Regions from separate parts of the Homo sapiens genome. Here regions 1, 2, 3 and 5 are each linked to region 4. Evidence: fine-mapped expression QTL. A gene starts in region 4. Each other region holds a variant in brackets. All regions are shown on one strand. Distances are from middle to middle.

Region 1 (5,105 bases), 37 kb before region 4:
ATTGTACACTTAAAAATGGTTGAGATGGTACATTTTACATTATGTGGTTTTTTTTTACAATTAAAAAGGAAAAAGGAAGGTGGGAGAGCTCTAAAATGAGAAGGTAACAGTTTGATTAACTGTTACCAGTTTAATTAGCTGATGAGTGGCATGAATGTACAACTTCCGTTTTGAACGTGGCTCATATCTCCTGTGTTCCTATCCCAGCTCTATCACTTTCTTGCTGAGTGACCTTGAGCAAGTTGCTTGACCCCTCTGAGACTCTTTCCTCACCTATAAAATACAGATAATCAGAGTACGTATGTCACAGGGTTGTTGTGAAAATGAAATGACATTAGCACAGAGCCTGGCATATTTACTTTTCATTTAGCAAATTGGTTAAGCTCCTACTATGTGCCAGTAAGTGCTGAAGATGCAACAGTGAACAAAACAGACAAAAGTCTCTGCCCCTATGGAGTTTATATGTCCATGTGCATTAGCCTGCATTTCCCAGAAAGCAGAACATGAAGCTAAGGCTTATGTATTGCTCTTTTACAAGTGGGGGTACTCAGATGCCTCCAGCATCTACAGCTAAGAACACTTTCAGGCAAATACAGTTCTGCTGATCATCCCTAGGAGGACAATCATGTTATAGAACCAACAGGTTTGTATGTCCACTGTGCAGTAACAGACCAATTACACTGAGACAGCAAGGTTTGCAACAGAGAAAAAGATCCATGATCATAGGGCACTGAGTGAGGAGATGGGAGGAGACCCTCAAATCCGTCTCCCCAAGGAGTTATGGGCTGGGTTTTTTAAGGGGATCATGGAGGGTGAGGGACTTCAGAATTGGGGCTGTTGATTGATCAGGGAAAGGGGGCTGAAATCATCAGGATGTGAAAACTGCATTCTTCGGCAGTCAGATTCTCATTGGGTCCTTCAGATTGGCTAGTGTTATAGTCTTATTAGTATGCAGGACCTGAAGGACTATCTCAAAAAGAAAACTTACTGTTTTGTAGTGTTCAGTTTTTTATCTATAGAGCAGTTAAGGGGAGCTATAATCTTGTAACAGAGTCTACGTGATTGTAGGACAATAGGCACCACACAAATATGAGGAAGCAGGTCAGAGAGCGGGCTGACTTAATGATTAATGCTGAATGTGCTACAAGCTTGTTTCATTTTCATTTCTCCTCCTCCCTTTTTTCCTGATTAATTTAATAAAGTTCATAGGGGAGGCTTCAAACACATGAGAAATTAAAACCTTTATTACCAGAGTCAGAGCCTGACTATATTGATTGAGTGAAGCTTTCCTTTATAAAATGCAAAGCATGTAAACAATTCCAACACAGTAACATATTCATGAGTTTTTAAATTCATGAGTTTTAGAGAAAATATTTTACTTAAAACCAGCACTTGATGATCTCTGACAATGTTATGTAGCCTGAACCTGGAGTTTTGGCTGATGGGTTGTCTCAGCCTGTGACAGGTTTTAGCTGGCTTTGGTTCATCTTGTATCACACCCCCACACTCACATGCTCACACACTGTCTTAGTCAGCTCGGGCTGCCATCACAAAATACCATAGACTGGGAGGCTCAAATAACAGAAACTTATTTCTCACAGATCTGGAGGCTGGGAAGTCCAAGGTCAAGGTGCCAGCAGACTCAGTTCCCCAGTGAGGGCTCTCTTCCTGTCTTGCAGGTGTCCACCTTCTTACTGTGTCCTATGGCAGAGAGAGAGAGACTGAGAGAGAGAGAGGGATAGGAAGAGAGAGAGAGAGAGAGAGAAAGAGAGAGAGAGAGAGAGTGCACATTGCCCTGGTCTCTTCATCTTCTTAGAAGAACACGGATCCCATCATGGGAACCTGGCCCCCATGACTTCATCTAAACCTAATTACTTCCCAAATGTTCCCATTTCCAAAAACATCACATTGGGGGTTACAGCTTTAACATGAATTTTAGGGAGACAGAAACATTCGGTCCATAATACATGCCCTGTGATATACCCCCATAAAATAAATACACTGAGTGGCTGTTGGGTTTGTCTTCAGGTGGAAGGGTCTGATCCTCTGAGCTTCCAGATAGGGTTCTTGAATGATCCACACCACATCTGCTTCAGTGTTGTCCAAGAAGCTGGCACAAAAGTACAGACTCTCAGGCCCCACCCTGGACATTTCAAGTTAGGGTCTCTGGGGCTGGGGCCAGGAATCTGCATTTTGAACCAGTCCTTCCTTCTCCCACTTGCCTGCCCAGAAGATTCTAGCAGCTCCCAAAGCTTGAGAACCACTGCTCTGTACCTCTGCATCCTCTGGAGATTTTCCAAAACTCGTGTGTCTTCTTAAATCAGTTGTTTTTATAATGACTATGACACAT[A/G]AAGCCATGTGATATAACAAAGGCTGAGCTGGATGCAGAAAGGGCCTTCTGACTACAGCAGGCTTTGGAATGTGGATTTAATGAGCTACTACTTTGGTGAGTAGAGAAAGGGGGAATAAAATCCCAGTGGGTCAGGATTTTTAAAATTGAATTTCTGTTGGAAAGGATAGGGAGAGAAGGGCATTGCTTCCCTAAAAACTAAAATCCTTTCTTTTCTTTTTTCTTATTTGTTTTTTTTTTTTTGATGGAGTCTTGCTCTGTCACCCAGGCTGGAGTGCAGTGGTGCAACCTCGGCTCACTGCAACCTCTGCCTCCCAGGTTCAAGCAATTCTCCTGCCTCAGCCTCCTGAGTAGCTGGGATTACAGGCACCCGCCACCACACCCGGCTAAGTTTTGTATTTTTAGTAGAGTCGGGTTTCACCATGTTGGTCAGGCTGGTCTTGAACTCCTGACCTCATGATCCGCCCACCTCAGCCTCCCAAAGTGCTAGGATTACAGGCATGAGTCACTGCGCTCAGCCAAAGCCCTTTCTTGATCATATAAATGACTCTAGTGTCTTCGTGCTTGGTGACTGCTTTCTGTACCCTGCTACAGATGATGCTGCCTGTTTGTGAAACAGGACTGATACAACTCTTCTGGAAGGAACTCTTTAATATCTAAATATCAAAACTGTTAATCATTATTATTAGTAATTCATTATTAATATGTTAATAGCTCAAGTACTACAATTAACTATTCAACTATTCAGCCCTAGTTTTCCTTTTTTAAATTTATTTTTCCAATAGCAGTGTTGTTTGAATGCCAACTTCAGATTTTAGTCTCCTTTCGACTTAGGTGATTGTGAATCTATAAATTCTTAACAAGAAGCAAATGTGTAGAATCTGTAATGCTTAGATTTTGTTATTGGAGCTATAGAAAATGTTACATTTATGGTGTCAGACTCTATTTAGCTGGTAAGGACAAAGCAAGAGCTAAGGCCAATTACTTGTCATCATCATCATCATCATCATCGTCATATTTCTGGAGCATTCACTATTTACCGGGCACTGAGCCAACATTGTATATTCATCATAGCATTTGGTTCTCATAGCAGCTCTATGAGGTTTGTGCCCACATTATCCCCATTTTGCAGATAAAAAAGCCAAGCCCCAGAAAGGTTAAGTAAATTATTCAAGGTCCACAGCCAGTGTGTGGCAGAACCAGATTCTGAAATCAGGCAGTCCAATTCCAGAGTTCCAATTCCTAACCATTGTGCTATTCAGTCTAATGAAAGGAGCGAAAGATTCAAGGTAGACAACTGTATATTGTCAAAGGCATGTTCAACACCAGGGTTGCTTGTTTCTAAATAATGTTCAAGTCCATGAACAGCTTTTTGCTAATGTTTGGAGCAACTGATAAAATATATCAAGCAAAGAAAAGTGTGGACACATCCATGCACACTGGAGAAGTAGCAGAGTGGTTTAATTTTGTGTTGGAGAATCAAAGGCCAGAATGAAAAGGCACTTTTTACATCCCAAAGGAAAATTCCCATTCAGAAAGACATTGATGGCTTTTTTAGCGGCATCCATTCATCTGCTCTGCAAAGGCATGGGGTCATGTGATTTTGAGAGTACTGACTCTACTCCCAATGCATGGCAGTCATGTATAATAATTTAGGGGACAGTGATTCCATTCACAGTTCCAGAGGTAAACCCCCCTCCAATTGACTAAACCCAATCAGAAAATCCTACTCTTGCATAGGATTGTTTCAGAGATAGGCACAAATCTCATCCTAAGCCAATCAGAGCACGGCACTTCCGTCGGCCATGGTGATTGATTCAGAGATGGGCATGTGACTGGTTTGCTCAGTTAGAGTGAAACCTAGGATTTTGTTTGGTAATTGAGATAAAGACACTTTTCTTCAGGAAGATGTGGTGTACGGAACTGTTCCAGACATTTTGTCACCATGATAAAAGTGAGTCTGAAAAGTAAACCATCATGTTCAGGAAGGCAAAATCAACAGAACTGCAGAGCAATGGAGTCAGCACCCTGATCAAGCCATTCCTGAAACTAGTGTTGACCCATTTTTATTTACATGAATCAATAAATTCCTTTCACTGTTCACATTATTTTAAGCTGGGGTTCTGTTTCTTTCAACTAAAAGCATTCTAGTTGGTACATCAAGCATTATGCTTGTCATTTAAATACAAGTAGGTTCTAATGGGGAGATCTGCTCTCATTGTGAGAACACCTTAAAATGGACTCAGCACTTGGGATCAATCTTTAAAAACAAACAAATTAAGTCTAACTACACACTATGTTAATGAGAAATGGGTGTTTTACTCAAAGTGTTATGGAAACACTGGGGAGAGAATTTACATGACATATGAAAAAGCAAAACTTAATAAGATTCCTCATCACCCATCCCCATAGGACTTCTGTGATGACACCTCTTTTGCCTTTCCTTTTCCTTTTGCTTTTCTCCCTGAACCTTCTAGCGTCTCCTTAGTCACTGCACTCTCATCCTCTATTAATGTTCTGCGTGCTGCAACATGCAAAGAAATAAAACAACGGCATCAGTTTAAAAAAAAAAAAAAGGAGGGCCTCTGTCCCTCTAGCCTGTTCCCAATCCCAACCCAAGGATCTTCCCAGAGAGTAGTTCAGCTGCTGAGTAATATTTCCATATGGTTATCTACTGTGTTCTAGAAATACACAAGGAATGCTCTTGGGCTCTTGTGCGATCCTCTCATCTTTGCAGCCACTCCCACAAGAAAGA
Region 2 (5,105 bases), 48 kb after region 4:
ACAGGTTCAAGCAATGCTCTTGCCTCAGCCTCCCAAGTAGCTGGGATTACAGTCATGTGCCACCATGCCCAGCTAATTTTTGTATTTTTAGTAGAGATGGGGTTTTGCCACGTTGGCCAGGCTGGTCTCAAGCTCCTGACCTTGTGATCTGCCCGCCTGGGCCTCCCAAAGTGCTGTGATTACAGGCTTGAGCCAATGTGCCCAGCCCCCAAATCGATACTTAATACATGAAGTATGTAAATGTCATTCTCATGTATAAAGAACGTGGTAATATAATATTATATCACATACTGCCATTAAAGGCATTTCATTTTATAATACTGGCTTCAGAACTCAATCCCCAGTTTGAATAGTAATCTTTTTCAATTTGTGTGAAATAATTTGGTGTCTGATATATAGACACAAAAACTTTGCAATTTTTACTTTTTTTTTTTTTTTTTTTTGAGACAGAGTCTTGCTCTGTCACCCAGGCTGGGGTGCAGTGGTGCGATTTTGGCTCACTGCCATCTCTGCCTTCCCAGTTCAATCACATCTCCTGCCTCAGCCTCCCGAGTAGCTGGGATTACAGGCACACGCCACCATGCCTGGCTAATTTTTGTATTTTTTTTTAAGGAGACACAGGGTTTCACCATGTTGGCCAGGCTAGTCTCAAACTCTTGACCTTGTGATCCACCCACCTCGGCCTCCCAAAGTGCTGGGATTACAGGCGTGAGCCACCTCACCCAGCCCTGCAATTTTTACTTTTTAAAAAATGACTTGTCCAGGTGTGGTGGCTCATACCTGTAATCCCAACACTTTGGAAGTCTGAGGCAGGAGGATCACTTGAGGCCAGACGTTTGAGACCAGCCTGGGCAACACAGTGAGACCCTATCTGTATAGAAATTTAAGAATAAAATTAGCTGGATGTGGTGCTGCATACCTGTAGTCCCAGCTACTCAGGAGGCTGAGGTGGGAGGGTTTCTTAAGCCTTGGATTTCGAGGCCTTAGTGAGTCGTGATCGCATCACGGCTGTCCAGCTTGGGCAAAAGAACGAGACTCTGTCTCAAAAAACAACTCTCAAAATGCAAAACTACTATATACCATTCACCCATTGTAAATGTATTATGTGATGATTTTGGTAAATTTCTACAGTTGTGCCCCCGTCACCACAATACAATTTAAAAACATTTCCATGCCTCCAAAAGATCCCTCCTGCCCATTTGTCGTTACTCTGCTCCCATCCTCAGCCCCAGACAAACACTCATCTGTCTGTTTCTATCTGCCTTTTCTAGACATTTCATAAAAATGGAATTATACGGTATAAAGTCTGTAGTCTCTTGCATCTGGCTTCTTTAACTTAGCATAAGGTTTCTGAAGTTAATCCATGTCGTTGTGTGTATCTGTACTTCATTCCTTTTTGTTGCTAAATAGCATTCCATATTATGGACAGAGCACACTTTTTTTTTGTTTTTTGTTTTGAGATAGAGCCTTGCTGTGCTACCCAAGCTGGAGTGCAGTAGCTCGATCTCTGTTCACTGCAACCTCCGCCTCCTGGGTTCAAATGATTCTCGTGCCTCAGCCTCCTGAGTAGCTGGGATTACAGGTGCATGCCACCACACCCAGCTAATTTTTGTATTTTTAGTAGAGACAAGGTCTCACTATGTTGCCCAGGCTGGTCTCGAACTCCTGACCTCAAGCCATCTACTCACCTCAGTCTCCCAAAGTGCCGGGATTACAGGCATGAGCCACGGTGTCCGGCCTACAGAGCACACTCACTTCATTCAGCAGTTGATGGGCATTTGGATTATTTCCACTTTTTGCCTGTTTATAGAGCAGTTATTGCCACTTTTTGCTTGTTTATAGAGCAATGCTACCATAAACATTTGTGTACAAGTATTTTATGGACATATGTTTTCATTTCTCTTGAGTCTTTACCTAGGAGTGGAATTGCTGGGTTGTATGGCAAATTTGTGTTTAACTTTTTAAGAAATTACCAAATTGCTTTTCAAAGTGGCTGTACTGTTTTACATTCCCACCATCAATTTATGAGCATTCCAGGTTTACTATATCCTCACCAATACTTGTTGTTACCCGTCTTTTTTGTATCCATTTGAATGGATAGGAAGTGGTATCTTGTTGTGGTCTTGATTTGTGATTCTCCAGTAGTTAATGATATTAAACATGTTTGTGCTAATTAGTTATTTGTATATCTTCTTTAGTAAAATGTCTACTTAAATCTTTTACCCATCCTGAAATTTGGATTGTCTTTATGTTATTTGTTGTTTATGTATGATTTACAAATGTTTTCTTCTGGTTGGTGGCTGGAATCCAGTCTCTTTCATTTTCCTAATGGTGACTTTTGAAGCACAGGTTTTATTTTTGAAGTCCAATTTATACATTTTTTTCTTTTATGACTCATAGTTTAGTGT[C/CT]TTTTTTTTTTTTTTTTTTTGAGATGGAGTCTCACTCTGTCACTCAGGCTGGAGTACAGTGGTGCAATCTGGGCTCACTGAAACCTCCACCTACCAGGTTCAAGTGATTCTCCTGTCTCAGCCTCCAGAGTAGCTGGGATTACAGGAGCACACCACCACACCCAGCTAATTTTTTATATTTCAGTAGAGACGGGTTTTCACCACATGGCCCAGGCTGGTCACGATCTCTTGAGCTCAGGCAATCCACCCGCCTCGGCCTCCCAAAGTGCTAGGATTACAGGTGTGAGCCACCAAGCCCGGCCTTTAGTGTCATATTTAAGAGCTTTTTGCCTAACAAATTTGCAAAGGTTTTCTTCTGTTTTTCTTCTAGTAGTTTTATTGTTTTAGCTCTTATATCTTGGTCTGTGGTCGAATTTGAGTATATTTTTGTCTGTGGTGTAAAGCAAGGTCTAAATCTATCTTTTTTGCATGTGGATATCCGATTTTGTGTTTCTCATTAAATTTGTTCCCAAGTATTTTAATCTTTTTGATGCTATTGTGAATGGAATTGTTTTATTTATTTTAATTTTGGTTGTTCATTGCAAGTACATGGAAATAGAATGAGTTTTTTTGTAGTGATCTTGTATCCAGTGATCTTCCTGAATTAGTTTATCAGTTCTAGTAAGGTATGTCTGCATGTGTGTGTGTGTTTGTGTGTGTGTGTGTATTCCTTAGAATTTTTTATGTATTGAATCCTATCTGAATAAAAAGAGTTTTACTTCTTTGTTTCCAGTCTGGTGTCTTTTATTTCCTTTCAGTTTTTACTTTTCACTTTAATTTCTTAAATGTTTTTTAAGTTGGTCTCAAACATATTTAGCATGATATCAAAGAACATTTACCTAGAAATAATACATAAATTATATTTGACATTTAGGGCCAAGGCATAAGAAATGTACTTGCTGTGGGCTTTGAAAGCAAAGTGTATGTTTCATTATAAAAAGAATACATTGATAAAAACAGAAACTACTACCTCTAAAAGTTAAAAAAAAAAAAAATCTGAGCAGTTTCTATAATAATAAAGATGGATGTAGATAGACCACAGATGCTTATTTTAAAAATTTGGTAATTATTAAAAAAAACCCCAAAATACTAAAAAACAAACTAAAACATTTTAGGATCACTTTTTTGTCAGTTTCAATGAATAAACTTGCCACTCGATTTCATCATTTGTAAAATTATTGCTTGACATGTTTAATATCTAAAATATAACATAGATGGTTAAAAGCTGAAAACATGTATAAGTCAGCAGCTTTGGATTCAAAAGTTGAGGTTAAATTACAGCAAATAGAGCCGTCTTGCATAAGGTTGTAGAGAGGGAACTGTTATCCTGGGAACCAACTTCAACTTTGTTTTCCTCTGTGTTCCTACCTTTGTTTGGAAGTGTTTGTTTCTGTCACAGTGAAGGGCCTCCCCTGACAGATCCCCTGATTGACAGTGACACAGTCAGTTCCCACCCTGCCTTATCTGTAAGAGTTCTCTAGCCAGAGCAACCACAGCCTCAGAGAAGAAAAACCTGGGGCCCTATTCAATTCTGCATCCATTATCCATGCCTTTGTGGAGACTTTTCCTGAGGGAAAGAGTTAAAGAGGCACGTAAACTTTCAAACAGCAGAGACCAACAGTGGACTAAGCACAGCGAATTGGATTTTCTGTTGAAGAGGCAGTGCAGTGGCCGGGTTCAGGCAGTAACGGGAGCCTGGGGGACTTAGGGTCACAGCCTCTGCACAGTTTCAACTTGGGTTTCCTAATAAAAATGCTGCCCAGAGAGGAAAGACACTAGGGTAGAGGAAAAGCTGTTTCTTACAAACCTACTGGCAAGTCCGTCTTCTTTTCAGCTGACTTCATCACCTGTGTTGGACTAAACAAGTCTGGGCATCAGCTCCTGGTGCTGGAGTCTGCCTGGGCTGGGAGCCGCCACATGCCCCCGCAGTGCAGCCTCTGCAGCTCTGAACATTTGGGACATCTGAGCATTTTGGGTTAAAAAGGATAAAAAGAGGAGAAAAAGGCTAAACCAGTTCTATGGGAAAATTTGGTTGTCTTCTTTTTTTTTTTTTAAACCCAGCTTAGTAGGGCTGGTTTTCCTTCTTAAAATTATCATTCAAGTTCAAAGACCAGCCATAATTATCATCGCCCCACCCAAAAAAAAATTCAGAAAAGCTACATTTTACTGGAAAAGCACAATCCTTTAATATCTACTAATCACTAGAAACTATAGGAGCACTGATTTGCCAGCTAGCAAATGTATTATCTTTTTTTTAATGTTATTTATTTATTTTTTGAGACGGGTCTCATTCTGTGGCCCAGGCTGGAATGCAGTGGTACACTCTCAGCTCACTGCAGCCTCAACCTCCTGGGCTCAAGCAGTCCTCCTGCCTCAGCCTCCCGAGTAGCTAGGACTACAGGCACAGGCATGCGCCAACATGCCTGGCTAATTTTTGTATTTTTTGTAGAGATAAGGATTTGCCATGTTGCCCAGGCTGATCTTGGACTCCTGGGCTCAAGAGATCCACCCACCTCAGCCTCCCAAAGTGTCGGGATTATAGGTGTGAGCCACTGTGCTCGGCCATCTATTATCTGCTAAATTTTTACTGCTTAATTTTCCCAGAGCTCTTCTGAGTGTGTGATTGGAATACTATTAGTCCATAATTGGATTTACTAT
Region 3 (5,105 bases), 130 kb before region 4:
CCATAAAAGCACGCTGAGGGATCATCTCAGAGACCCTAGAACCTGTCTGCCATACCACGTGCTCTGCCACCCTGCTCACCACCCAAAAATTCCTTCCATTCTGCCGCATGGCTGGGCCCTGCACTGGGCCAGGCCTTCATGGCGGGCAGGGGACAAGGGAGGGAGGGGGTCTGGGCCCTGAATGGGACACAGACAGTGGCCACCTGGTAAAGAAGACTGAATGAGCAGAGGATGCGGGTAGGCAGGTCCAGGGCAGGGCCCTGCAGGGTGCACAAGAGTTCTCTGGGGTGGATGGTAGACCAGGGCTGTGAACACGCACGCTGGGCTGGGCCAGCAGGCTAACATGTCCTAAGCCCCAGAGCTCTGCAGAGGGGCAGGAACAGGGCCCAGAGGGAGCAAGGCCGAGAATAAAGGCCCTGAATGCCTCAGATCTGGCCAGATCTGCTAAAGACAGTTGCGTCCTGTGTTGAAACGCTATTGAGTGGCCTTACTGTCCCTGTACCATTTATAAAATATGGGACACGTGTTATCCGGCTGAGCCACTCAGGGATTCTGTGGGGCCCACAGCCAGAATCACGGTCCCATTTCATAGGTAGGATAACTGAGGCCCGGAGCAGTTAAATCCCAAAGAGTGAGGCAGAGCCAGCTCAGGGGTGTCCTGACTTTCAGCCCAGGGCCTCCCATCTGACAAATGGGGAAATCGAGATCAGGAGAGGAAGGGGCCTGCCCAAGCTCACATGGGAGCACACCTGTATGGAACACACTTGTATGGAGGGCGCCTGTATGGAGCACTGCCCTCTGCCAGGCACGAGATATGCTCAGGTGGGGTGACCTCCCTTTACCATTCCCCAGCTCTGACCCCATTTCGGGGATGCAGAAAAGAGGCCTCAGAGCAGAGTAAGGCCGAGTCAGGGCTACAGAGTCCGATGGCCACCCCTCCCCTGAACGGCTAGGAGGAGGGAGGGCAGCTGGCAAAGGCCTGCAGGAGCCCAGAGCGTGTTCTTCCAAGTGGAGCCTCTGCTGTGGGAGCCCCAGCCACGGGGTCAGACAGAAAAGGGGTCCCGCCCAAGCTCAGCCCTCAGCAGCCCTTGACCTCAGGCAGTTTGACTCCCTTCAATGGGCTTCAGTTTCCTCCTCTGTACAGGGGGGTGATAACAGTCTCTCCCCACAGGTTGGTTTTGGGGATTAAATGAGAATGCCTAGGGAGTGCCAGGCCCACGGGGACCCTCACCTACCCACAGCCATTGCTGTTATCTCCTGGGTTCTTGCCTGGGCCTGTGGGTGACACACTGTGTGATCCTGGGCAAGTGCCTTTCCCTCCCTGGGCCCAGCCTTTGCTCTGGTCAAGGAAAAGCTGGGTCAGGGACCCTGAGGACCAGCCATTCAGGAAACCAGTAGCTTCCTGGGTGAAGGAGTTGGCCAGGGAGGCCTGGAGGGGCAGCGTGGTCTGAGGTGAGAGTAGGGTGGGGGCCAGGCCAAGGGATGGGGGTGGGGGATTCACCTTCCCAGCTCTGGTGGCCCTGCCTGCAGCTGGCTGACCTTGGGAATCCCCAGGCTAAGGTTAATCTTAACACTGACCTAAACCAGAACTCAGGGTGACAAGGGAAAAAACTAAGGCAAGGAGAAGCCAAGGCTGCCGCGTGGGATGTGGGACAGGAGAAAAACAAGACAGATGTGGCCAGGGAGAGGGGGAGCGTATTTCAGGGCTGCACTGGGTGTTCATGCAGCTCACAGGTGAGGGTGGAACAGCCCTCTCCCTACATCCCACCTGCTCCCAGCCCCAGCCCCCCACCAGGCCTGATGCTGCCCCCTGGCTGCCTTCCCACACCCTGAGCTCCACCTTGGGTCCTGGAGCTCTGGAGGACCTGGCTTCAAGGGATCTTACCTACCCCTTCCAGGACCCTCTTTGACTAAGGAAAAGCTGTGGCCTCCCAGAGATGCAGCCTTTTCCCAAGTCTCCAGACTCTTCATCCCATCTCATCCCCAGCTTAGTGCCTGGCGCATACACGGCTCCCAACCAACAGTTTATCTGTGTATTTATGTACTTCTCTTTCTTTTTTCTTTTTTTTTTTTTTGAGACAGGGTCTCCTTCTGTCACCCAGGCTGGAGTGCAGTAGTGTGATCATGGCTCACTGCAGCCTTGACCTCCAGGGCTCAATAGATGCCCTGGCCTTAGCTTCCTGAGTGGCCGCATAGCTGCACCTATAGGTGACCGGCTAATTTTAGGTTTTGTTTTGTTGTGTTGTGTTGTAGAGACTGGGTTTCACCATGTTGCCCAGGCTGGTCTCAAACTTCTGGGTTCACACACTTCACCTGCCTTGGCCTCCCAAATTCTGGAATTATAGATGTAAGCCACTGTGTCCTGCCAACAGTTTAAATGAGGGAGGGATGGAAGGAGGGAGGAAGGAAAGAGGGAAGGAGGCAAGGAATGAAGGAAAAGAGAGATGGGTCTGTCAATGAAAGTTATTACAAGAGACAAAGAAGGACATTATATATTGATAAATAAGTTACTTCATCAAGAAGATGTAACAATTAGTACATGTGCGTCTAACCACAGAGCCCCCAAGTATAGGAAGTAATGACTGATGGAATTGAAGAGAGAAACAGACAGCTTCGCAATAATAGTTGCAATACTATACTGTCAATACTGGCTAGAACAATGAGACAGAAGATCAATAAAGAAGTAGAGAACTTGAAAAACTATAAATCAGCTAGACCTGACAACATCTACAACAGACTCACAGAATACAGATTCTTCTCCAGCACACATGGAGTGTTCTCTGGAATATACCTTGTATTAGACCATGAAACAAATCTCATTAATTTAAAAGCACTAAAATCAAAATATCTTTTCTGCGAGAGAAAAAGGTAGAAATAAGAAAGGAAATCTGAATTCAGGAATATGTAAAGATTAAACACACTCCTAAACAATCAATGAATCAAAGCAGAAATTACAAGTGATGTTCGAAAATTCTTTGAGATAAATGAAAATGGAAACAAAGCACACCAAACTTGTAGGAGGCTGTGAGACCAGTGCTCAGAAGAAAATGTAGAGTGGGGAGGTCACGGTGGGAAGATGGCATGAGGCCAGGAGTTTAAACCAGCCTGGGCGACAAAATGAGACCCCTTTGCACAAA[C/CAAAAAT]AAAAATAAACAGGTGGGTGCCATGTACCTGTGGTCACAACTACTTGCGAAGCTGAGGTGGGAGGGTTCTTGAGTCCAGTAGATCAAGGCTACAGTGAGCTGTGATCGTGTCACCACACACCAGCCTGGATGCAAGACTCTGTCGGAAGGGGAAGGGGAAGGGGACAACCTTTGAACTGCAACCCTGAGGTTGGACCTGGGGAGAACTGGCCTCACAGGAAAGAGAAGAGGTGCTAGATGGAATCAGACTCTCAGAAGAGACAGAAAGGAGATGAAGGTAAACAGGGAAAATGACTAGGACCCACTGTGCAAGACTCTGTGCAGCAAAAATGACGTAATGGGATAATGAAGGGACAGTTTCTATTTCCTACAGAGCAGGAGTGCCCCTGAGAGCTCGAGTGAGAGGACAGGCTGTGGGTTCCTGGGATTTCAAACATTTGGAGCGGGAATGCAGGGATGTAAGATGATGTGTTTTCCAGTCCCCTGGCCAGCAATGATGCTTCTCAGTTATGAACATCCCCCATGGACACTCCTAGGGTCTTCCTGTCTGAGGCAACTTGTCCTCTCAGTTCCTCCTCCCTAGATCTCTTTAGAATTATTTCCTGGGTTAGGGTTTCCTGAGAGTGGAGGAGAAGGAGCTATGGATGTCCCCCTTCCTCCCTCACCATGGTTGGAAGTCTGGCCAAGGCCACTTCATTAAGGGACAGGGGACCTTTCCTATCTCCTCAGGGGCAGCCTCCTGAGTTGGTCTGACCCCCAGATTTAACCGGAACACACTAGAACTTTCCACACCAGAACTTTCCACACCATCTGCACATGGAAAATGTGTGTCTGTTCATTGATTTATGAAGACACCTAGAAAGATTAGCTATAAACAACGTGTTTATTTCATTTTAGGATACATTTTCAGAGGCAACTAGGTAGAAAGGTGAACTTTCCCATCACTTAGACCTCAAGTCAGCAGCTCATGCAGCAGTGATTGCTCGGGTGACTCTGAGTGACCTGTTCTACCTCTAGAGCTGACGTTTCTGTTCTGGTTAGGCTAAATGGAGGAAATAAAAATTCTCCAAACATTTCATTAAGATTCACTGGGAAACAGTACCCTGAGTGCTTAGAGCTGCACTCCTCACACAGAAGACACAGTAAGGGTTAGGGAACCTTCTCAGGGGATGAATACACACGAACTTTCACCACAGCGACCAAGAGCTTATATTGGGAGTCTGATTCCGGCCTCTAGGGAAGCTGGAAAATCCAAAACCAATCTCATTAAACTATTTCATCTACTCATAGGAGGAGGTCCAGCTCTTATAAAACTGCCAACCCTTCCTTCTCTCCCTCTCCTCACCCTCCACCCACAGGACAGGGCCGGGCACACGGAGGAGGGACACTGAGGACCTGGGTGGTGGAGACCCTGGCTTTCCTCTCTTCTCACCCATGGTGGGCTCTGCTTATCCTCATCTTTTCTTCCCCAGTTAGGGTTTCCTGGGAGGCTGTGAGTTGTCTGGGGACCTCATCAACATTTGCACAAATGCCCCAGACTCTGCTCACCTCTTTCAAAGGGGCTCCTCCCTCTGAGCCTGCAATGTCTGTGTGATTGGGAGGTGTCACCTCCAGGCCCTGAAACCACAGCACCCGCAGGGTCTCTGGCCCCAGTCTGAGGTTTCTCTACAAGCTTTGGAGATGAATGAAGCCTCTGTTTTAACAGGAATAGATCGGTTTATCAAAGCATGTAAAGGCCAGATGTTCGTTTCTATGTTAGGGATCCTGAAGAGTTGTTTCAGAGTGGATGAATGACTGTCACATCCTCAGTGGCCCTGCCACTCTGACAGATGAGTAGTCACTTGTCATACATCTTGTTCACTTGAACTTCAACGACTGAAAATACAAACAATTAGCCAGGCGTGGTGGTGGGCGCCTGTAGTCCCAGCTACTTGGGAGGCTGAGGCAGGAGAATGGCATGAACCCAGG
Region 4 (5,105 bases):
AGGGAACATTATTAATCTTGTGGGAACGCTGGAGTTTTGTCTATTATCACAAGCAGCGTGAGCCCCAAGTCATTTAAATCCTCTGGGGGTGGGAGACATAATTATTTGCAAGGGAGCATTATTAGCTAAGTACAAATGGGTTGCTATTTGTTTTTTCTGTTCTTTGTGATGATTACAGGCTGGGGATGGTGTTTAGTAACAGGATCCAGCAGGTCAGTTATGACAACTTCATCATCACTGTCATTAACCCCTTTTGTTTGCAGTGAACACAAAAAGCTGTTCAGTATCAAGAGAGTCAAGAAAAAGGGAAAGAAGAGGGGGTGGAGAAAGTGAGACAACCAAAGAGACAGCCAGGGAACAGAAATTCATACACTATGAACACCAGAAAAAAATACCCCTGGGTAATTGAGTCAGCTGACTCAAATGGTGTAGGGGCCTCAGTTAGAGGACCAAATTTTGGACTCCTTGGTCTTTCTGCCAAAAGAGTAATTGCTCATGTTTATAGATGCAAATGTTTTTGCCATTTTGGTTCCTAGAAATGCCCTAGGGAGATGTTATTTTTGGTAAGGGGTCTTCCTGCTTCAAGTGTAATGACTGTGAACAACTAGTTTCAGTATCTTCTCTAGCATGCCAGGGTAAAATGAAGCAAAATAAATAGAGGAAGTGCCATGACCTTTATTGAGGATCTACTGGGTGCCAGGCAAAATGCTTTTTTTTTTTTTTTTTTTTTTTTTGAGACAGGGTCTTGCTCTCTTGCCCAGGCTGGAGTGCAGCAGTGCAATCTTGGCTGACGGCAAGCTCTGCCTCCCGGGTTCCTGCCATTCTCCTGCCTCAGCCTCCCAGGTAGCTGGGACTACAGGCGCCCGCCACCACGCCCAGCTTATTTTGTTTTTGTATTTTTAGTAGAGATACAGTTTCATCGTGTTAGCCAGGATGGTCTCCATCTCCTGACCTTGTGATCCACCCACCTCAGCCTCCCAAAGTACTGGGATTACAGGTGTGAGCCACTGTGCCTGCCCAGTGCTGCGATCTCGACTCACTGCAGCTTTCGCTTCCTGGGTTCAAGCGATTCTTCTGCCTCAGCCTCCTGAGTAGCTGGGATTACAGGCGTGCACCACCATACCTGGCTAATTTTTGTATTTTTAATAGAGACATTATTTTTAATGTATTTTTCCTGTTGGCCAGGCTGGTCTTGAACTCCTGGCCTCAAGCGATACACCTGCCTCAGCCTCCCAAAGTGCTGGGATTACAGGTGTGAGCCCCACGCCCGACAAGGTGCATTTTTATGTGCTTTTTCTCCTCTGTCTTCTCAACAACCCTGGGGTAAAAGGCCTCATTTCCACTTTTCCTATGAGAACAATAAAGTAGAAAGAGGTAAAAGACTGCCTCTAAGATCACCCAGCACAGAGCAGGGATTTGATTTCAGGTGTGTCTTGTTCCAAACTTAATATACTGTGCTGCTGGGGGAAAACAAAGAGCAAAAGGTTCTTAACTGAAGTCAAAGACGACCAAGAAAATGTAGGCAGATGTCAGGTCTGATCATGTGGATGCTCAAATGATAAACAGACACATTGAGAGAAATTGTATTAATTAAATCATAAAAATATGTTCCGCTTTTTGGGGAATTTACTCCTCCTCCTGGGGTGACCCTTGACAAGACATTCTGTCTTCCTGTTTTTAAGCAAAAAAAAAAAAAAAAAGTGGGTAGAAGATGAAAGTTTGATATTTCGCTCATGCATAGCTTTGTCTCCTTAATATATTTTGTGCTTGCCTGTCATTTCAGCTTTCTGCTGGCAGACGAAGCTCCTTCAACTGCCATTCCTACTTCTGACACTCCTCTTGTCCTTTTCAGGACAACTTTATGCCTATTGTGCCTTGGGTCTTGAGAAGCATGTGGTAAAACTGGCCAGTGGTGATGGCAGGCATAGCAGGGAATCAGATTGAGGGGGGCTGTGGCGTGGGAGAGAAAACAAAAGAGGGAAACAGGCTATTTGATGACAGAATCAGGCTGCTTCTGCAATGACATTACATGAAATATCTGAAATTTGACCTTAACTGTATCTGGTGGGTCCCGTTAACCCTGTAAGTTATGGACAGAACGTTCACTCAAATTCTAGCAACGTCTAGGCTCATGGAAATACGTGACCAATTCAGGTGAATGAAAGGGATTTTAAAACATTAATTTCCAGCTTAGGTCTTCCTAAGACTGCCTGCGTGTCCCTTACCACCACTCCAGCCTGAGTGTCACATGGATCCTGAATGCGGACTTGTGTGCACACTGTAGAAAAATAAGCAACTGAAAACCCCAGGCATCGGGGTGGAGTGATGATGAAAGACACCGAGACCGAAGATCAGGAAGCTGGAAATTCCCCCCAGCTTCGGTGTTTGGGCTGTATCTCGCTTTTCCACTTCCCTAAATCACCCTCGTGGTGCGAGTGTGCTCGCAGCAGATGCTCCCTAATTGTCTCTTGTATTGACCGTAAAACCCTAACGACAGGAATACTCTCTCTCCTTCTATTTCTCAACACCATTTCAACACCCAAACTAAAACCTCTCACCTGAGTGTAAGGGAGTGGTGACCTTCTTAAGCGGAGAGCTCTTCCATCAGAGGGCTCCCTAAGGGCATCTCTGTTCCTAGCCGGGGAGCCGTCACCCCACTTTGTTCTGCTTAGCCTAAGACACGCAACTTTTTCCAGCTTTTACTCTTCGCTGAATTCTCACGGTGGGGTTGGGGGGATGTTCAGGCTCAGGAGCGAGGTTGGGGGCCCGGCCCGCTGGGCGCTGTTCACCGGTAGCCCGGACCAGAGCAGGAGTTTCATCATTACCTGCTGGGATAGGTGGGACACATGTATTTCCGGGGCCACCCCAGACCTCCCGGAGGATGCTGATTGACACTGTCCAGTTTGAGAACTACTGTGTCCAGGGAGCAGAGGCCTCCCCATAACCCCTTGGGTTGTGGACGTCTGGCCCAGGGCTTCTCTGGGTGAGCGGGGCGGGCATCAGAGCGCGTGGAACCTGGGGCGGGAGGTCGGGGCAGTGAAGGAGGAGGAGAAGGAGGAGGCGGAGACCGAGGGGGAGGGAGGGGAGGAGGAAGAGGAGGAGGAGTCCCTCGTGGCCACCCCGAGGGGAGGGCGACCGTAGAGACTTGGTCGGGAGGCGCCGGCCCAGCGAGGCCGCTGGGACTGTGCACTGAGGGGCGCTGACCGTTGGACGCGCGCTCCCCGCAGACCCTCGCTGAAGGAGCAGGGGGCGGCGCGCGTGCGCGGGGCGCCGGGCGGCGCGCGAGGGGGCGGAGCGGGGAGGCGTGCTGCGACCCCGGCCGGCTACAGCCTGCGGCGCGCGCAGAGCGCTAGTGGGGCGCGCGGCGCGCGCGCGGGGCGGGGGCGCGCGGAGGGGGGGGCTGCCCCGGGGCGGCCCCCCCAGGTCGGGGCGCGGCGGGCGGCGGCGGCGGGCGCGCGTCCCGTCCAGGTCCGGAGTAACCGCCGCCGCCGCCGCCAAAGCTCGCCAACATGGCGGACCTGGAGGCTGTGCTGGCCGATGTCAGTTACCTGATGGCCATGGAGAAGAGCAAGGCGACCCCGGCCGCCCGCGCCAGCAAGAGGATCGTCCTGCCGGAGCCCAGGTACCAGCTGCCCCGGCCGGCGCCGGCCCCAAGCCGCCGCCCCCTGCGGCCGCCAGCTACCCCCTGCTTCCTGGAGGGTCGGGCGCTGAGCCTCCGCTGCCCCGGGGCGGGTGACACAGCGGAGCGGGCGATGCGGGGCCGGCCTCGTCGTTCCAGTCTCTGAAATGGGGCATCGGAGGGCCGGTGGGGGGCACCCCGGGAGAGAGCGCTCCAAAGTGCCCGGCGCGGCGCCCTGCGCGCAGCGAGCGCCCCAGCCAGGGTCTGGTTATGACTTGGCTGGACCAGCTCCATCCCTGTCGCCCCCTCCCCCCAGCCCTGTCCTGTCCTGCCCTGTCCCATCCCCGTGGTTCTTCCTGTTGCATTGGTGTAGTCCCCGTTGGCTCCTTGCCTGTCACTGCTTTGCGCTCCATCCTGGTCGCTCCTTCTTCCCGGGCTCATTGGTCCCCCTTTCCAACTCCATCCTCTCACCTCCCTCTGGGCCGCTTACCTGGGGACTGCAGGCTTGTTGCTTATTGTCCGAGGTAGTTAAACTGCTGTTTTCAGTACTTGCTCTTCTTGAAGTCTATTAAGTCTAGTCACCTTCTTCGGCTTCTCTTCTATTTTGTCCCCGGGCAGGATTTTGACCCACTCAGTATTCTTTTTGGTGCCAAGTGTGTCACCTGAGCTGCTTTCCTCAACTTGTAGATCTACTGGTGGCACTTTATTAAAAAATTGAAACAGGAGTCACTTAAAAAGACACTTGAATGGGTGATTCCAGACAGGAATTTGTTGTTAAATTATCAAAGGAGGGCCCGATTGAATTGGCGAGGGGCTCGGTGAGGTGCATACCAAGTTGCAATTTTCTCTCAAATGATTTATTATTAAGGTACTAGTAAAATTTTTTCTAGTTCATATCATTAGCACTTCCCCAGAAAAAATAGTTTGTCTGGTTAATAGTGAGTTTTAAATAACGTATCAAGGCTTCAGTGATGGATTTTTTTTTCTCTAGCTCCTTTCCTAATTAACACCATCATGAGTTGTACAGCTAATGTGATTCCTTGATGCTAAATAGCTCTTGGAATTGATGCTCAAAAGAGGCATCTTGTTTATGGTGAATTTGAAACCATGCAATTCTGTAAAATATTGGAATCTAAACCAAAGTTATTGTCCATTTGAAATCATCAGTCCTTCAAGCGTTAGGCGCCCAAGATTGCTTAAATGTTACCTAATGCTAAGTGATCATCATCTGATTTTTTTTACAAGTCATCCATGAGCCCTATGATACAGAAAATACCAGTCCCCTTGTTATTTGTTGTGAAAAGCTAAATTGTGCAAATGAAGACATGCTTGCTAGGTATTTTGAGCTTGCTTTTCCTCCTTAGCCCATGCCTCTTGTTGGTTTTGCAGGATGTGCTACTCTTTGATAGACAATGCCAAGTAGTGAAAATGAGGGAAAAGTGCAAACCTTTCTGCAATGTCGTGAGTTTAACACCCCTATTCCAGA
Region 5 (5,105 bases), 44 kb before region 4:
CAACAGTACATAGAAATGGGTCACATGGAAGAACTCCTACATGCCTGTGCAATGTTGACAATCAGATTGTCTCATTTTCTTTTTTTTCTTTTTTCTTTCTTTTTTTTTTTTTTTGAGATGAAGTCTCGCTCTGTCGCCCAGGCTGGAGTGCAGTGGCGCGATCTCGGCTCATGGCAAGCTCTGCCTCCCGGGTTCACGCCATTCTCCCGCCTCAGCCTCCCGAGTGGCTGGGAGGCTGGGACTACAGGTGCCCGCCGCCACGCCTGGCTAATTTTTTGTATTTTTAATAGAGACGGGGTTTCACCATGTTATCCAGCATGGTCTCGATCTCCTGAACTCGTGATCCACCCACCTCGGCCTCCCAAAGTGCTGGGATTACAAGCGTGAGCCACCGCGCCTGGCCGAGTTTGTCTCATTTTCTAGCCTTGTGCATACGCCTCCCTACCTGGATTACTTGTCATCATGGAATGAAGCTTCTACATTCTAATGTCCTTCAGGCTCTAGACCCGGAGGTTGGATAAGGTTCCCTTGTTCTGTAATACAAACTGTCCTGGGAAAGATGGAAAAGCCACATCCGGTGTTGTTGGCAAACAAACCATGGAGACCTCACCTTGATGTTGATCCTACATGACCTTTCTGTTCCAGGGGCATTCAGATGATGTTATGGGAGACGCTTTGAAGATCAGATGCTAGGTCTTAGAAGAAAGACCATCTGTAAAGAATCCTTTGCTTTCTCGCCTAGCATATCAGTAGATCGATCTATTAATCTATCTATCTGTGTATCTATCTATCTATCTATCTATCTATCTATCTATCTATCTATCTATCATCTATTTACCTACCTACCTACCTACATATCCGTCCTGTCTATATCTATCATCTTTCTATCCATCTATCTATCTGTCTCTATGTATCCATCTGTCTCTATCTTTATCTTGCTAGCTAGCTATCGTTCTTTTATATTGCTTCATTTAATCAATCAAGCATTCATTTGGCATGTTCTATGTACTGAGAAGAACTGTGTTCACAGGTTGTGGATTCAATGATAGATGGTCTATTTTTGAATCCACAACCTATGGATTTGAAGAAAGATAGTCTTTAGGAAGCATGTTTACATGGGATATAAATGTATGCTTAATACTCAGAGAGACCCAGATTCAAATCCCAGCTCTGCTACCTACTTGCTGAGTGACCTTGGATAAATTGCTGCCCTACACCACCCACCAGGCCTCTGTTTGCTTATATAGAAAGAAAGTTAGTCCTTACTTTGTGAGACTGCTGTAAAGGTTCAATGACATGGTGAATAGAAAGTACTTGATGTAGGCCTGGCATGGTGGCTCATGCCTGTAATCCCAGGACTTTGGGAGGCCCAGGTGGGTGGATCACCTGAGGTCAGGAGTTCCAGACCAGCCTGGCCAACATGGTGAAACCCCGTCTTTACTAAAAATACAAAAAATTAGCTGGGCATGGTGGCAGGCCCCTGTAATCCCAGCTACTCAGGAGGCTGAGGCAGGAGAATTGCTTGAACCTGGGAGGTGGAGGTTGCAGTGAGCTGAGATTGTGCCACTGCACTCCAGCCTAGGGAACAAGAGCAAAACTCCATCTCAAAAAAAAAAGTGCTTGGTGTAAAATCTGGTGCATAGTATGTGCACAATAAATCTCAGCTTTGCTTGCTTGCTTGGTTGATTGATTTTGTCTGTACTGTACTAAACTTAGTTTGGGGACTAAATATACAAATACAAATCATACATATATACCCATTGTTTTTAGGAGCCTACGTCTTCTGGGAAAAGCAGGTGTGTTTGGTAATTAGAAGTGTTTGATAATACCCAGGGAGGTATTTATAAGCACTGTGGGTGTCTAGTGTGCTGGGCCTAAATCAGCCTGAAAAATAAGAGGTATCATCTGTGGATTTTCAAGTCCTTTATCCCATTTAACCCCCTAGAGAACCCTGAGAGGTTGGAAATATTGCCCCATTTCAACAGAAGGCCCAGAAAAATCAAGGCACAGTGGCCAGCATTCTCTGCTGCACCTGGAAGGTACTAGACACCCTGAGGCATCCTTGCTAGCGTACTCCTCATGGGTGAGGCCTAAGCTGTGGCCACTGCAGAGGTCCAGATACTTCCAGGAAGGTCTGATTGTCAGTGAGGCAGTCTCTGTGTGCAGCCAGGAATCTCTGAGTGCAAAGGACAGAGGAATAGAAATCTAGCAGGACAGGCTTGGCTCCAATCCCACATCTCAGGGCCAGAGAGCAGAAGAGATTCTGAATGGAGTGAGATGACCATCTCTGGTCTCTTACTTAGGCCCAGTCCACAGGCTCATGTCTGGGGCCCCGGGGGAGTGAGGGCAGCAAAGAAGAACAGACAATGGGCTCCACGCAGACCTCTGCAACACACTGGAGCCTGAGCCCAATGCTGCACGACCCATCAACTACAAGAAGGAGGGAGAAGGTGTATGACCCCCCCTACACCCGCAACTCTCCCATGATCTCCATGGAGACCCAAAGATATACACTGCAGCACCCAGCAAAGA[T/C]GTGGTACTTGGTAAGGACAGTGGTACCCACCTGTTCCACAGGGAACATACTAATCATGTCTGAGATAGCCCCTGAGATGGGCTTGAATACCCGGCTGTGGAGAAGTTATAAGAGCTGAGGTCCTATGGAGCCAAGAGGCAGTCAAGTTGGTATTTATTTATGCATTTACAACTATTAATGGGGCACCTTTTATGCCCACAGACTGCTGAGGCCCGGATTAAGCTAGCACAAGAGTTTGATAAGAGGACAACTAACCCTGTGCTTTGAAAATCCAATTCACATTTCTTGAGTATGACTATGTCCTAGGCAGTGGGGATATAAAGGAGAATAACATAACACCATCTATTGGAGACACCAATGAGAAAACCAGAATTGTAGTTCAACGCAATAAAGGCTATGCTGGTAATACTTGTGATAATCCCTGAACCAACTGGTATGGCCAATCATAGGCATGAGATCTCAGCTAGTCCAGTCAGAGTGAATCTCAGAGCTCTTTACTGTCTAAAAAGCTTGTTCTTTTTTCTTCTAGGTGTTGGAGTGTGGATATGAGTCATGGAACTCTGGGGCTATGTTGCTGCCAGGTAAGAATCTGTTCTAGGAAGGATAAAATCAATGGACATAGAAAGGCAGACTGGAGAAGGGAAAGGGAGCTGAGCCCTGCTGATAGAGTAAACCTCTGGATTAAACTATGCCTGAAGCCCACATTCCTGTTTGACTTTTCATTTATATAAGCTGTATTACTCAGGGTTCTCCAAAGAAACAGAAACAAGCAGAAATACATATATTTCTTTATAGAGAGTTATATAGAAAGAGATTTATTATGAGCGATTGGCTCATGTGACTATGGAGACTGAGATGTCCCATGCTCTGCTGTCTGCAAGCTGGAGGCCCAGGAAAGCGGGTGGTGTAGTTCGACAATCTGAAGTTGAAGGCCCCAAAACCAGGGGTGCCAATGGTGTAAGTCCCACTTTGAGTACAAAGGCTTGAGAGCCAGAATCACTGATGTTCGAGGGCAGAAGAAGACAGATGTCCCAGCTCAAGCAGAGAGAAAATTCTCCCTTTCTCTGACTTTTTCGTCTATTCAGGCCCTCAATGGATTGGATGGTGTCCACCTGCATAATTGAAGGTGGATCTTCTTTACTCAGTCGACTGATTCAAATGCTGATCTCTTCCAGCAACACCCTCACAGACACACCAGAAATAATGTTTTACCAGCTATCTGTGTATCCCTTAGCCCAGTAAAACTGACACATACAATTAACTATCACATAAGCCAATACTCTTTATTGTTTAAGGCCATTCGAAGTGGGTTTGTCACAACTTGCAATTGACAGCATCTTACAACACAGTAAAGACAGAGTGGAAGATTCAGGTCCTTAAAGGCTATAAAATGCCTTGAGTACTCATTTAACAAATTGCAACTCTTTCTTCAAAGTCATGGGGGACTTCTTGAAGCAAAGGGTGGGGTAAATGATCAGGTTCTTGTATTTTAAATATCTTGCTGGCTCCAATGTGGAAGCTGGATTGAAGTAGGGCAATAGCGAACAAGAGGAGCAATATGGGACTCAGGGGAAGTTTAACAATTGCCTAAGTAATGAGTGTAATATGGTATCCTGAATGAAACCATGGACCAGAAAAAGGACATTAGGTAAAAACTAAAGAAATCTGAAAAGTACAGACTGTAGTTAACAACTGTTTTAGTCCATTTTGTGTTGCTATAACACAATACCACAGACTGGGTAATTTATAAAGAAAAGAAATGTATTTGCTCATGATTCTGCAGGCTGGAAAGTCCAAGAGCATGGCACCAGTATCTGGCAAGGACCTTTGTGCTGTGTCATCCCATGGCAAAAGGTGGAAGAGTAAGCGAGCATGTGAGAAAAAGGAAATCAGGCTGAACTCATCCTTTTGTCAGGAGCCCACTCCTGCAATAGCTAACCTACCTCCCCCATGACAGCATTAATCCATTTATGAAGACAAAGTCCTCATGATCAAATCACCTCTTAAGTGGTCCCACCTCTTAATACCATCACAATGGCAATGAAATTTCAACATTAGTTTTGGAGGGGACATCCAAACTATAGCAATAATGATGTATGAATATTAGTTCATTAATTGTAAATAGTGTATCATCTGAATGTAAGATGTTAACAATAGGGGAAACTGGGTGTGTGGTTTGTTGGAGCACTCTGCACTACCTTTGCAATTTTTCAGTAAATCTAAGACTATTCTAAAACAAAAAGGTTATTTTAAATTACCTTTAAAAAGCAGCTAAAAATGTTTTGGTTTCAATGTCTTTATGCTTTCATGTCTATTCCTTTATTGATCTGCAAGTATTTATTGAGCACCTACTCTATGCCAGACTGTGGGCTGCGTCCAGGGAATGAGCTAATATCTTGCTTCGGCTCAGGAAAACATTAATGGTTTTATCTTCTATCTTATTCACATGACTATGAGGTCCACAAGTCAATGGCCCAAAACTCTGGCTGGCGTCCCTGTCCCAGCCTTGCCAGTGACTGTTAACTATGACTTCACCTCTCTTGGCCTCTATTTCTTCCTATGTCATTTACAA

Which allele goes with the higher level. Positions count from the first base shown, and alleles are read on the strand shown. Sizes are in standard deviations (SD) of each study's normalised expression. Not every link is listed here.
As copies of G replace A in region 1, the expression in esophagus mucosa of the gene that starts at base 3,144 in region 4 goes down (small effect, 0.19 SD a copy in GTEx).
As copies of C replace CT in region 2, the expression in neutrophils of the gene that starts at base 3,144 in region 4 goes down (large effect, 1.5 SD a copy in BLUEPRINT).
For the expression in fibroblasts of the gene that starts at base 3,144 in region 4, allele T in region 5 goes with a higher level than allele C (small effect, 0.35 SD a copy in GTEx).

What was found. PIP is the estimated chance that this variant, and not a neighbour inherited with it, causes the effect. A credible set is the group of variants that fine-mapping cannot tell apart.
Region 1: its variant is the best candidate, but not a certain one, in a credible set for the expression of GRK3 in esophagus mucosa (GTEx, PIP 0.86).
Region 2: its variant is the best candidate, but not a certain one, in a credible set for the expression of GRK3 in neutrophils (BLUEPRINT, PIP 0.52).
Region 3: its variant is the best candidate, but not a certain one, in a credible set for the expression of GRK3 in fibroblasts (GTEx, PIP 0.59).
Region 5: its variant is the best candidate, but not a certain one, in a credible set for the expression of GRK3 in fibroblasts (GTEx, PIP 0.69).

The regions. Positions count from the first base shown.
Region 1 is chr22:25,524,893-25,529,997 of GRCh38, forward strand. No RefSeq gene overlaps it. Among named protein-coding and RNA genes, the nearest start is that of GRK3, 37 kb to the right of the region's middle. The variant A/G (reference allele first, on the strand shown) is at 2,351.
Region 2 is chr22:25,609,423-25,614,527 of GRCh38, forward strand. All of the region lies in intron 2 of GRK3 (G protein-coupled receptor kinase 3), which reads left to right. Among named protein-coding and RNA genes, the nearest start is that of GRK3-AS1, 47 kb to the left of the region's middle. The variant C/CT (reference allele first, on the strand shown) is at 2,409.
Region 3 is chr22:25,430,323-25,435,427 of GRCh38, forward strand. No RefSeq gene overlaps it. Among named protein-coding and RNA genes, the nearest start is that of MIR6817, 23 kb to the right of the region's middle. RefSeq lists an enhancer at 653-1,153. The variant C/CAAAAAT (reference allele first, on the strand shown) is at 3,138.
Region 4 is chr22:25,561,532-25,566,636 of GRCh38, forward strand. GRK3 (G protein-coupled receptor kinase 3) reads left to right here and starts at 3,144. Exons shown (of 21, transcript NM_005160.4): 1 at 3,144-3,622. The coding sequence starts at 3,510. GRK3-AS1 (GRK3 antisense RNA 1) reads right to left here and starts at 3,885. Exons shown (of 4, transcript NR_183564.1): 1 at 3,549-3,885; 2 at 2,559-2,828; 3 at 1,772-1,950. RefSeq lists silencers at 3,070-3,169, 3,480-3,729 and an enhancer at 3,841-4,356.
Region 5 is chr22:25,517,620-25,522,724 of GRCh38, forward strand. No RefSeq gene overlaps it. Among named protein-coding and RNA genes, the nearest start is that of GRK3, 45 kb to the right of the region's middle. The variant T/C (reference allele first, on the strand shown) is at 2,533.